Linked DNA regions of Homo sapiens. The protein of the gene in region 2 interacts with the protein of the main gene of each other region in a pairwise test. Each region holds a gene or a part of one and is shown on either strand. Other genes may lie near its edges.

What was found.
Region 1: the proteins of SEPTIN8 (region 2) and SH3GL3 interact in a two-hybrid assay, tested with the Homo sapiens proteins (one large-scale study listed by BioGRID and IntAct).
Region 3: the proteins of SEPTIN8 (region 2) and JADE1 interact in a two-hybrid assay, tested with the Homo sapiens proteins (one large-scale study listed by BioGRID and IntAct).

What each region holds. Positions count from the first base shown.
Region 1 is NC_000015.10:83,586,841-83,591,088, reverse strand, and holds part of SH3GL3 (endophilin-A3), read right to left. Parts: exon of another isoform or gene 4,114-4,248; intron 4,107-4,113; coding exon 4,003-4,106; intron 3,732-4,002; exon of another isoform or gene 3,576-3,731; intron 2,428-3,575; coding exon 2,318-2,427; intron 1-2,317. UniProt on the Homo sapiens protein: Implicated in endocytosis. May recruit other proteins to membranes with high curvature.
Region 2 is NC_000005.10:132,759,401-132,764,398, forward strand, and holds part of SEPTIN8 (septin-8), read right to left. Parts: coding exon 4,824-4,998; intron 4,493-4,823; coding exon 4,306-4,492; intron 3,246-4,305; coding exon 3,084-3,245; intron 2,497-3,083; coding exon 2,400-2,496; intron 2,227-2,399; coding exon 2,058-2,226; intron 1,866-2,057; coding exon 1,733-1,865; intron 1,593-1,732; coding exon 1,402-1,592; exon of another isoform or gene 537-1,401; intron 325-536; exon of another isoform or gene 1-324. UniProt on the Homo sapiens protein: Filament-forming cytoskeletal GTPase. May play a role in platelet secretion. Seems to participate in the process of SNARE complex formation in synaptic vesicles.
Region 3 is NC_000004.12:128,816,200-128,820,447, reverse strand, and holds part of JADE1 (protein Jade-1), read right to left. Parts: intron 4,001-4,248; exon of another isoform or gene 3,985-4,000; intron 1-3,984.

The DNA of each region.
Region 1 (4,248 bases), on a different chromosome or scaffold from region 2:
TTGCAGTGAGCCGAGATTGCACCACTCTACTCCAGCCTGGGCTACAGAGTGAGACTCTGTCTCAAAAAAAAGAAAAAGAAAAGAAAATATTTATTATTTAGGGCTAGGCAAAGAATTCCTAGACTTCACACAATCTATAAAACTAAACATGAATACATTGGACTTCATAAGAATTAAAAATTTTGATCTGTGAAAGACCCTATTAAGAGGATTAAAAGATAAGCTACAGAGCGAGAGAATATATTTGCAAATCACATATATAGAAAGAACCTGTATTGAGAATAAATCAAGCATTCTCAAGACTCAACAGTAAAAATGTAAACAATCCAATTAGAAAATGGACAAAAGACATGAAGAAACATTTCACCAAAGAGGATACACAGATGGCAAATAAACACATGAAAAGATATTCAACATCATTAGTCACTAAGGAAATGCAAATTAAACCCACAGTAAGATTAATTACACACCTATCAAAGTGGCTAAAATAAAAAACAGTGACAACAGCAAATGCTGGCAGGGATGTGGAGAAACTAGATCACTAATATATTGCTGGTGGGGATGTGAAATGGTAGCACAACTCTGAAAGATAGTTTGGGAATTTCTTTTCATTTAGAAAAATAAATCCTTATGATAAAGATCTAAATATTAAGAAAAGATTATTCAAAGTAGTAGAAAACTGTAGAAGAATAACTTCAGGGATAGGAAGACTTTTCACAACAGGGCACAAAATGTAATCATGACAGGGCACAAAATGTAAAGTCACAAGCAAAAGACAGACACATTTGACTACATCAAAATAAAAGCTTCTGTATACTCAAAGCAAAACTAAACAAAGCAAACAACAGCAAAAACAACAAAGGGACAAGGCACTCCAAAAACAAAGTTTAAAGATAAATGACAAACTAGGAAAAAAATTATTAATATCCTCATATGGAAAGAGCTCCTATAAAACAATAAGACAAAGCAAACTACTCCCAAAAAACACAAATAAATGACATAAACAGACAATTCAGACATAAGGAAATACAAATTAAAATATAGAAAAGAAAGTTCACCCTCACTAATAATCATGAAAATGCAAATTAAGACTGGATACCATTTTTTTCTCATGAGTGCTTGGCAGAAATGGAAGTCTACTGGCATGGGTGTGGGGAAGCAGGTGTTCATGCTTTAATAGTAATGTAGCCAGCACAGTGATAAAGGATACTCACTGTAGCAAATAACTGGAAAAAACCTTAACGTCCACCAATAGGGAAATGGTATAATAGAAAACTATGAAGCTGTTAAAACAGTGGGATAGATCTATATGCATGATATGGAAATAACTCGAAGAAACAGTGATACATTTTAAAAAGCAAACTGCCAAACAATATGCCTAGTATAATCTCGCATTTAAAAAACAGAAAAAAGGCTGGGTACAGTGGCTCATGCCTATAATCCCAGCACTTCAGAAGGCCGAGGCAGAAGGATTGCTTGAGCCCAGGAGTTGCAGGCCAGCCTGGGCAACAAAGTAAGACCTTGTCTCTACAAAAAATAAAAAAATTTGCCTGGCAGGGTCACATACACCTGTAGTTCCAGCTACATGGAAGGCTGAGGCAGGAGGATTGCTTGAGCCCAGGAGGTCAAGGCTGCACCGAGCCATGTTCATGCCATTGCACTACAGCCTGGGTGACAGAGCAAGACTTTGTCTCAAAAAAGAAAAAAAGAAAAAACAGAAAAAAATCCAAAACGCTGTTTATGTGTATATTTATGTACCTCAATAGATATGATAATAGTTATACCAAATTTTTTTAACAGTGGCTACATCTAGGAAGCGAACTGCGATGGTGTAGGTGATCACAAGAGACTATAGAATGACTTATACCATTAAATTTTTTTTTCTGTTTGATTATTTTACCAATTTTTTTCTGTTTGATTATTTTACTAAAAGACACATTTGCATCACTTGTTTAATAAAAAATAACGATGCAGCACTTAAGATAGTATCTAGCATATAGCAGTTGCTCAAAAATGCTAATTTCAACTTAAAAATAAATTAAGAAAATATTTTCAAAGAGTTAAAAAAATAAAGGATGATGTAGCCATAATGGTTCTATGGCCAAGGTTCTAAATGCTACATTATATAAGTGATAGAATTCTTCCCCAGGGAACAGAAAAAAGGGGCACGTTTAGGGGAAAAGGGAATTTACCAAACAACCAAAGAAAGATATCCAGGGTCTGTGTGTATTCACTGACCCAGAAACAAGCAGTAAATAAGTGTTTCTAGAAGTGCTTTACTAAAGGCACACTTAGCATATTAGAATGGTCAACTTACCTGTCGTCTTCACTACAGAGGTGGTGGAAACTCCATTGAGCTCACTAGAACTCCTTTTCACAGGCCTTGGCTTGTATTCTCGTCTGGGGACACTGGATGCAGCTGATATTCTGTAACACACATCGTAAGATGAGCCAGACATCTGATGTTGAAAGCTTTCCAAACACACATCCTCTCTGCCTTGTTGAGCACAGGAACTTAGGTTACAGCCAGTGGTCATGAAAGGGACGATTTTTACACACTGACTCTTGAGTAGCCCGAAGTGATGGAGGTGATATCACAAATGCAGTTTTTCAACTCCCTATTTGAGCTTGTGAGTGAAATTCATCTTGAAGAAGACTAATTGGGCCAGCCATGGTGGCTCATGCCTGTAATCCCAGCACTTTGGGAGGCCAAGGTGCTCACCTGAGGTCAGGAGTTCGAGATCAGCCTGGCCAACATGGTGAAACCCCATCTCTACGAAAAATACAAAAATTAGCCAGGCATGGTGGTGGGCGCCTGTAATCCCAGCTACTCGGGAGGCTTAGGCAGGAGAATCTCTTGAAACTGGAAGGTGGAGGCTGCAGTGAGCAGAGGTTACGGTGAGCCAAGATGGCGCCACTGCACTCCAGCCTGGGCAACAGAGCACGACTCCATCTCAAAACAAAACAAAACAAAACAAAAGACTAATTTTCTTCATCAAGTCTCTGAGGCATCCAGCAAGTGCCTGGGACGCGGTCGGCACCCAGTGATGGGAGCTGCCTTCTCCCTCACTCTACTCTTATAGATTATGATAGAATTATGAAAATACACTCCTGTCAGTAACAGGTAAACTATCTGCCTGCAGAAGTGGATGCTTCAGGGACTGAACACATCTTTGTCTTCCCTAGGTAACTACGTCATTGATTTAAGTAAAAATCCCTCCAAATTTATGCATTACCATAATCCTGTGTAAAACAATTTTCTGTTATCAAACCTAATTTAAAATATTTTAATAAACAGGGTTGCCATGCAGACTATATATAATATTACTAATTTTCAGAAAAGTATAGACTACATCTATGATTAAATTCACAAGGAATGCAGAAACCTTTCTTTGATTGTTCAGAAGATATTTTTGACTCTTTCAATACCTGTCAATATTATGAACACAGCCTGAAATTTGTCAATATTTTGACTCTTTCAATACTAGTCAATATTATGAACATATCCTGAAATTCGTACTGGTGAAGTGAAGGCACTACCTTTTTTTTTTTTTTTTTTTTTTACAGATATTTACATATTTTCCATACAGCATCTCACTTTTTTCCATAGCTCTGGATGTTTTCCATCCCTTTGTGAATGGGGAGTTAAACTCTCATCAAATCAGCAATGAAGCCAGGGTAGTTCTGTAGGGGTTGATGTCCCAGGTGGGAGAGCAACTTGGTTAGTTGCCCTAAACACGGGTCACAAAAAAAAGGGATTTAATGAAAAGAAAAAGGAGAAAAGCTGCCAGGTCCCTTTTCCCAGTTCTATCCTACTGGCCAAAGCCAGTACTTATTATCTCAGTCCCATCCCACATCCAACCATGAAAGCCAGTGAAAGAAAATTCAAAACAGAATGAGGCAGGGGAAGGGGGAGATGGAGAGATGGAGAGACAGACAGATGGATTTCAATAGATGTTACCTCCGCAGCCCTTGGCTTGTAAGAAACGTGGAGGTGCTTACCGCATCTGTAGCTTGCTCTGCAGCTCCTGCAGAATCTCTGTGGACTGTCTGTGATAGTCTAATGCTGCCTCTATGAACACAGCCAACTGGCTGACTTGTTCTACCTGCAGCAGAAGTGCAAAATTATTCCATGGAGGCCCGAGCCTGTGTAATGTCCAGAGAGAGAGGAGACCAGCAGCAAAGACCTAGCTTTGCAGGGAAGACCAGTGTCTGCCTTGGTCCATTTCATTTAATTTCATGTAGGAG
Region 2 (4,998 bases):
TGGTGTCCTTTCAGCCTGCCTGCACCCACCTTCACTGGCCCTCAGACCCTGAACTGGCCACAGACCCCTGTCTGCAGTTGCTGAGTGGTTTCTCCACAGCTTATTTCCTAGGGAATCCTGGCTACCTTTTCTTTAACAAGATGGCAGGAAGCAGGGCAAAGTCACTTTGGGTGCCAGTACCTGGGTCACAGACTCCCGCTGGCCCTAATGGCTAGGCTCCATTGCCACCAAGGAAGGAAGGGCCTGGGCATACACATCCCCAAATATCCCAGGAGGAAATGGATCCCGAGAATGACGGCCAGGTTGGGTTCACCTGCTTAGTTCCTAGGTTGGCAAGAGAAGGATGGTACCCAAGATAGGCCGGGGCAGGGAGAAGCAGGGATGGATGGGATCCCCACAGTGTGACATAGCATGGCTGTGAATGAGGTGGGTGGGCGAGGGTGAGCCCCAGAAGCCAGGACATCTGGACTCCAGCTAAGGGTGTGGAAACAGGCTATGAAGATCGCCAGGGAGAAGTGACTCATAGTTGTCCCCACCTGACTACTCCGTTGACTGCACTCCTGGTGCTGGGAAAGGCCTCCCTGCCATCCAGTCTTTCTCTCCTCTCTCCACTCTGCAGGAACAACTCCAGCCTCTACTTGAGGGGCAGCTCTTCTCCCCAAAAGAACCCACAGAGCCCCTGTGGGAAGCCGCTTTCCTCCCTTAAGCCCTGCGGGCCCTTCAGAACAGCTGTGTGGTGACCAGTCTCCAGGAGGCCAGTGTTGGCTGGCGCGAGTGCCCGCAGTTCTCCATCACCACCTGCCAGCCAATACGGGCTCCACACCACTGCCCCACAGACTGAGGAGGGATGCGCCACAGGTGTCCAAGCAGAAACCACCACGGCTTTTGGAATCTGGCTGGAGATGCTGACATTCCCAGGTCCTGTCCCGCCCCTGGCCTGAAAGACCATTCCCAGCATTCCCAGAGCCCTGCAGCTTCGCCCTCTCCACGCTGCTCCTCACCCGTGCAGCCCCACCTTCACCACGCTGCAACAGGGCCACAGCTGCCAAGGGGGCTATGGGAGAGCGAATGGGTGAGCAAGAAAGTTGGAGGAAGAGGAAGAAGGGGGAAGAGAAGGAGAGAAAAAGGGAGAAGGGAGAGGGAGGGGGAGCACAAGATTGCCTGTGCAAGTGAGACTGCATGAGTATCAGAGCAATCCAGACGGCGAGACACTGGATCACTAGTGAAAGAAAAAGGCAACCAAGAAAGCTGGGGGGAGAGCCACTGAAGATGAGGGAAAACCAAACAGGAAAGGGGTAAGAGAGGGCGAGCAGGAGAGCGAGAAGGGAGGTGAGGGACAAGAACGAAAGCAAGAGCCCACAGGAGCAAGAGGAGCCAGCGCAGGCGCAGCCTGCCACCTACTTCTTCTTGTCCTTGTCCTTCCTCAGGGGCTGCTGCGAGGTGGCGTGCAAGGCCTGCGACTGCAGGGCCTCCACCGCAGCCTTCCGGCGATTGAAGGCGTTGGTCTCCTCCTCCAGTTCCCGGCGCTTTTCCTCCACCTTGCGCTTCTCCTCCTGGTGGACCCGCTTCAGGTGCTCAAACTTCTCATGGAGCTGGCATCAGAAAGGGGGCAGAAGATGCGGGGAGCAAGAGGAGGGCTTGAGCCTGGGCCAGGAAGGCACCCCCACCTCTACCCTCAGCCAGGCCTTCCCTCCCTCAGCTTCCCCATCCCAGCCCCCAGCCTGGCACATACCTCCCTTTCCTTCTCCTTCAGCTCCAGCTCTGTCTCCTTCACTTTGTTGACAAACATCTGCCTCATCTCTTCCTCCTTCCTCTGCAGCTCACTTAGGAACTCCTTCCTCTTGGCCTCGTATGTCTCTTGTAGGCTGTGGAGACCCAGAGAAAAGAGGCCAAGGATGGGATTATGACGGAATGGGATAGGGCAGGGCAGAGCCAGAGAAGTAGAATCATGTGGGCACGAGGGGTAAGAGGATGTGGGGTCCCTCAGGGAACAGATGCCAGGGTGGTGTGTCTGGCCACAGCTGTGAAGACAGGCTCACTCTGGCTCAGGCTGTCACCTGAAGGGCTGGCTGTCACCATCGCTGTCCTGAAAGCCCATCTCCTCCAACTTGCAGCGCCGGTAGAGCTCGTAGTGCCGGCTGTGGGTCTGCTCGCGGAGGTCTTCCATGTTCACCCGGATCAACATCTCCCGCAGCTTCACGAAGTCGCAGTGATTCTCATTCTCCACTGAAAGCAGAGGGCCGGTGGGGTATCAGGCAGGCATGCAGGCGGGCACACTCCAGAGTCAGGGTAGGCACGCAGGTGGGCATGAGGAGGAAACAGCACAGGGTACTACAGGCAGCAGGGCAGGCCAGGGAACTCAGTTCTACCCCCAGGATGCATTTCCTGTCCACACTCACCCTGCACCACTCCCCAGGGGTACTGCCGTGCTCGGACCAGCTTGTTCCCCACCTTCACCTCCTCGGTGCTGCCCACCACGGCAAAGGGCAGATGTGCCTGGAAAGGGGCCCGGGTATGCGTAAGCCCTGAGCTGACACAGACTAATGGCAGACTCTCCCTCCCTGCCCCTGGGTCCTAGGGAGGGGCAGCCAGACCTGAACAAAGGCTCCAGGGCCAGATGCTTACTTCCTGGCTCTCTTCTGGAGAAATGTCCCAGAACTCCAAACAGGGGAGTGGGCTGAACCCTCAACCCCCTCCCTGGTGCTCCTGATTCTCCAGGCTGTTCTTTCAGCACTCGGGCCTCCCAGGGGCCATTAGAGCTTCCTGAAAGGACCTGTGAGCCTGGCTCCCTTCCAGGTTCCCAAACCCTTAAGCCTGCTCAACTGCTTCCATTTCCAGGCTCCTCCATGAGTCCAGATCTTATGACACCCAAACCTGGGGTCCCCAGTGTAGGCCCACTATCAGATTCTTCCTGTCCCCTGCCCACAGATGTAGGACTGGCCAGCTCCAGATGCCCACCCTTCTGTCCTGGAGAAGCTAAGGCTGGAATCCTGGGGAACAAGAGTCTCCTGGGGCTGTGTCAGATCTGTGCCGGCTCCTCGCCCTCTGGCCCCAGGGCCCTGAGGCCCTCACCCAACGCTCACATTCATGACTGCGTTAATCTCTGCAACAGCCTCATCATCCGTGGGGAACTGGTAGATCTGGACCCCGTTGCTGACCAACTCGCCCATGATCTTGATCTTGAACTTGTGGAGCTCGCTCTTGGAGATGGTGTCAGCCTTGGCGATGATGGGAATAATGTTCACCTGCCAGGATCAGGGGAGGGGACAGCAGGCTGGTTGGCTCTTTTGAGCGGTGGTTCCCATGCCATGCCCAGGATATGGATAGACATGCCCAGGCCATATCCCTGGGCAGGGGGAAGGAGGCCAGAGAGATGGAGCCACTCCCACGGGCAGCCATAGTGCAAACCCAGCCACCTGTGGCCATTCTGATGAGTTTCAACAATTGGCTGCAGTGCTTCTTACAGCCCTGGTTCCCCCAAATCACCATCCAGCCCCAAAACTGGTCCCCCTAGGCATACCCAGCTTTGACCCAGAATCCTTTGAAGGTCCTAATTGGCCTGGGGCCTAACAGAAGGAGTGGTGGGGGGGCTATGCTCCCCACTAAGCAGGTAAAAGGACCCATCAGCAGTAGCCATAAGAAGATCCCAAAATCTCCCAGGCCCAGGCTATCCCGTTTTTTACAATAAAAATGAACTCCTGAGATGGGAGGGCAGTCACGTGAGAGCTGACAAGGGATGTGGGGTCACATGCCCTTCAAGATGCACAGCACTTCCAGTCCTTCCCATGAAGCTGCCTCCCTTCTCTACCCCTACAGTACCCACCCCTCATTCACATCCCATTTCTGGGCCTTAACTCTCCTCTCCCTGATGGGCTCAGAAGGAACCAAAGGACATTTATGTCAGGGAGGAAGGGGGAAGTGAAAGGAGGAGCTAGAAATTAGGAATTGAGAGATAGAAAATGAGCAGAGAAGAGGCTGAGATGGGAAGGGAGGTTCCCTGGAGCGAAGGGGAACAAACACTATCGGGAGCGGGAGGGGCTGACAATGAGAATGATTCAGCTGCAAGCAAGGGGCTCAGGGTCAGACCCAGGGCACAGGACTCTGGAGAATGAGCCCAGAGCATTGGGGGCCACTGGAGCAGGAGGAACAGACGCAAGACAGAGAGAGGACCGAGCCAATGGGGGGCCACCCACAAGCCCCCGACCAGGTCCCTGAGGACCATGGTGTTCAGGCATGAGGCAGCCACCACATCGCATCGCAGCAGAAGACTATGGAGCCTGTGACAGCAGGTGGGGACAGGGATACCTTGCTGTCTAGTTTCTTCATGGTCACTAGATCTAGAGACTTCAGGGAGTGCCCTGTGGGCGTGATGAAGTAGAGGCAAACGTGGATCCTTGTGTCATGGTAGTCGAAGAGCGAGCGGCGGATCTTCAGCTCCTCCTGCAGATAATTTTCAAACTGCGCATCGATGTAGTCAACTATGGGCCTGTAACTACAGACAGCTCCATCACCCAGGAGGCTGCCAGCTGAGATCAGGGGCTTGGGGCTTGGGGGGCTCAGGGCTCGGGGCCAAGCCAGGCTGCCCCCTGGCCTTTTCTTTCTGGGAACAGCTTCTGCCTGAGATCCCTGACTGGATACAGGCAGCTGACCCCTTCTCCAGACACCTAAAGGAGTAACTGGTCTGTTGGTGACCACAGAGCCTCAGATATTCCCCAAGAGGCCCTCCCTGGCCCCCTGCAGTGTGAGGGCTGGGCTACTGTTATAGGGGCCAATGTAGGTGGGGTGGGAGGAGGCTGGGTGGGGCCGCCCTTCCCGCCTCTTGCCTCTCATCCTTATTGATCTGATCCCCAAAGCCCACGGCATCCACAATGGTCAGCTTGAGCTGCACGTTGCTCTCCTGGAGGTCATAGGTCTGGGGCCGCAGGCGCACGCATGCCTCATGGTGACTGGCTTCCTCAGTCTCGAAGGTCGTGTTGAAGAGTGTGTTCATCAGTGTGG
Region 3 (4,248 bases), on a different chromosome or scaffold from region 2:
CACAGATTGTGTCTAGAAGAAATCTTCCCAAAAGAAAGCCAGGCGTGGTGGCTCACGCCTGTAATCCCAGCACTTTGGGAGGGTGAGGTGGGTGGATCACTTGAGGTCAGGAGTTCAAGACCAGCCTGACCAATATGGTGAAACCCTGCCTCTACCAAAAATACAAAAATTAGCCAGGCATGGTGGCACATGCCTGTAATCCCAGCTACTTGGGAGGCTGAAGCAGGAGAATTGCATGAACCCAGGAGATGGAGGTTGCAGTGAGCCAAGATCATGCCACTGCACTCCAACCTGGGTGACAAAGCAAGACTCCATCTCAAAAAAAAAAAGAAATCTTCCCAAAAGAAACCCATAAAATCATAATTAACTGCAGAGCTAGAGAGGATTTCAAAAACAATTTAAAATAATTTAATCCACCTTTCCTACTTTTAAAGAGGAGTACATGGATTTCTGCATGTTTATCAACTTGCACAAACACACATAAGTAGATCTAGTGCAAAGGCAGTGGAAGAACCAAAGACCAGTTCCCCAGGTGGGTGGAGGGGCACTCTCCTCCTGTGCCAGCCACCTCCTCCCAGATTCCTGGACTATGGGCTTCTTCCTCCTGGATGTACACTGGGATTTAAAAAGAGGTCATGTGAATGACTAAGGCCATGATACGTTATCAGAGAGCAAAAACTGAAAATGTAATCAATGAACAACAGTCTGTTAACTTGAAAACTGAAACACAGATTCATGGCAAGATGGTCACAAATGCCATTCATTTTGCATAGTGAAGCACACAAAAGGTAAAGCTGGAAGAATGTGTCAGCAGTTCCTTAAACACTACCACAGGAGTATGAGTTCTCCCGGAGTGGTAGGCATTAACTTCTGATTGCTGTGACACATACACCCTACTTGACATTATCTCCCTCTGTAGTGGAACACAATCTTATAATACATATCCTCTTACACAGGTCTTCTTAGCTTGACCCCCCCGGAGGGTGTGAGAGATGACCAAGGTATTTGTTCTTACACATTTTATCCTCAAAAGGGATCTAGGATCAGAATCCCAGCTACTCCAGAAGCTAAGGCAGGAGAACTGCCTGAGACCAGAAGGTTGCTGAGCCGTGATCGTGCCACTGCACTACTGCCTGAGCAGCAGAGAGAGCCTGCCCCCCAAAAAAAAAACCACCATTGCACTCCAGCCTGGGCAAAAAGAGCGAAACAAAAACAACCCACAGCCCTCAGCGTAGCCAACTACCTCCAAACAAACTTCTAATTTCAACTTGCATTTTCAGGTTCCTAGAAGGGAGCTCAGCCACCAGCAGAAACAATCAAGTAGCTGCTGTGTCTTACTATAAATCTGGGGAGGCCAGGGAGTGATGGCCAAAGTGGGCAGAACCTTTGAGCTCAGGAGTTCGAGAACAAAGAAACATAGCAAACCCCATCTCTACAAAAAATACAAAAAACTAGCCAGGCCTGGTGTGGGATGCCTGCAGTCCCAGCTACTGGGGAGGCTGAGATGGGAGGATCAAGTGAGCCCTGGAATTTACACCACTGCACTCCAGCCTGGACAACAGGGTGAGACCCTGTCTCAAATCAATCAATCAACCAATCAGGGGTCAACAGCCTGTTTCTGTATGGTTTTTGAGCTAAGAGTGATTTTCACATATTGAAATGGTTGAGGGTAGAGGGCCAAAGAACATTTCATGACATACAAAATTCATAAAAATTTTACATTTCTATATCCATAAATATCACTTTCACATTCATTTTGCCCATGGTTGCTCTGGCACAACTGCAGACTTGAGCAGTTGCGACAGACCATATGACCCACAAAACCTAAAATATTGACTACCTGGCTCTTTACAGAGAAAGGCAACTGATCTGTCCTATAAATCAACCGATCAGTAGTATGATGTTTATAAACCACCATTATGCGTGTTTAGTTCAATGTGAATCAATTACCAGGTGCTGGACAAGCAACCGAAAGCTTACAAAATTAAGGATCAGACACAATCACTCCTTAGGAAGTCCCTAACTATGGCCGGCCATGGTGGCTCACGTTTCTAATCCCACCACTTGGGGAGGCTGAGGCGGGTGCATCACCTGAGGTCAAGAGTTCGAGACCAGCCTGGCCAACATGGTGAAACCTCGTCTCTACTAAAAATACAAAAATTAGCAGGGCATGGTGGCACACGCCTGTAATCCCAGCTACTCGGGAGGCTGAGGCAGGAGAATTGCTTGAACCCAGGAGACAGACGTTGCAGTGAGCCCAGATCATGCCACTGCACTCCATCCTGCATAACAGAGCAAGACTCTATCTCAAAAAAAAAAAAGAAGTCCCTAACTAGAATAATCAAAAGGAAGGCATTGAGGAGACCTCTAAGCAACTTAAATAAAGGCCACAGTAAAACCAGTGGGTTTTTCTCAAAAGAAAACCCCTGAGGCTCCTACTTGGAGCCAGTGTACACAAGTTTTAAAAACTTCTAACAGGCTTCTTATTTGATTTTCAAGTTAATGACCAATAAGCAGAAAAATCACTGTTCTCAACAGGCATTTTAACTACAATACATGGTAACAGTGGCAGTAAAAGGATCACAGAGAAATCATAAAAAGAAGTCACCAGAATTTAAACACTTAAACTAGAATCCAAGGATGTGCTTAAGGAAACACCCATGTTTTCTGGGGGAGAGCTTCCATGGGTTTCAGTGTCAAGTGTCCCCAACTTAAAAAGTTACAACCACCAACACTCAGCCTCTATATGTTAAGTGCATCATGGCATTTCCACATGGAAGTAACTGATGCTCGTAAAGATTATGACAAAGAGTAATCAATAAAAAATTTAAATTGCATTTAGTGTACTTTGTGCTAAATTAAAGCAAGCCATGAAGTTCAACCTCAAGCAACTTGCTAATAACATTGCTATTTCTTGTTCCTTACCCTGGTTTAAGTGGGAAACAAACAAACAAAAAGATTATTTTATGCCTCAGTGTGGACCCACACCACTGAAATCTTCACTTAAAGTAAGTCCTTATAAACTCTCATGGAAGATGCCATGAATTCTCAAAATAATAAAATCTCCTGCACAGGAGACACTAAATGATCAATAGTTTAAAATATTACTTCCACCAGCCACACAGGTGCACACTTGTAATCGCAGTTAGGAAGCCAGGGCGGGAGGACTCAGCTCTGGAGTTCAAGACTAGCCTGGGCAACCTGAGCAACATAGTGAAACCTCATCTCTCTAACAAAAAATACAAAGAGACAGATGTCAATTGTGAGCGCTTTCAAAGTAATAGAAAACTGGCCAGTCATGGTGGTTCACACCTGTAATCTAGCACTTTGGGAGGCCGAGGTAGGTGGGTCACTTGAGGTCAGGAGTTTGAGACCAGCCTGGCCAACATGGTAAAACCCCGTCTCTACTAAAAATACAAAAATTAGACAGACACGGCGGCATGCGCCTGTGATCCCAGCTACTCCGGAGGCTGACTCACTTGAACCCACTGCAGTGAGCCGAGATCCCACCACTGCACTCCACCCTGGGTGACAGAGCAAGAACTTGTCTCAAAAAAAAAAAAAGAGAGAGAAAATGTAGTTTACTTCCCTCAACAAGTAAGCCCAAAAAAATCTAAGGTTTTAAAAATTAACTTTCTTCAACTGCTCTCTATCACATTATGTCCTACCTCTACCTGAAGAACTAAAGGCAAAAAGTAAATACTGAATTCGTTTTAGAGTAACCAAAATTTGGTCACTGAACATTTACTGTGTGCACATCGTACACTATGGGTCTAAGGGATTAAACGTAAAAATACATGGCCCCTTTCCTAGTGATAAAGGCTTTCCAGTCCAAGTCTGGTAATCTTTATGTTTGTGCTTTGAGGTGAGGAAAGGATCCTTAATAATCATTCAAGTCCTGGGCTAGGAAAGGCCCCATCATAGCCAAAGTTTTTAGCATCAATTTCTTCCATTCTATTCCATGACACCCAACCTTAAACTTACAAATTGTCACTTCTATGTGTAATTAAAAAGGCCCTCCAAGGTCATTTTCTTGCATTTATTAGGAGAGCAGAGTAACTTGCTTCATCAGGGCTATGAACTGCAAAAAAAGAAAAAATAAAAATAATGCATACACCCTCATGATCACAAACCAAAGTTTTCATATGAGAAATACACTAGGCAAAGGACAATAGACTCAATAGACTCAACTAAATCTCAACTTCTGAGATATTACATTCCACAAACATAAAAAGAATTGTCCAGATT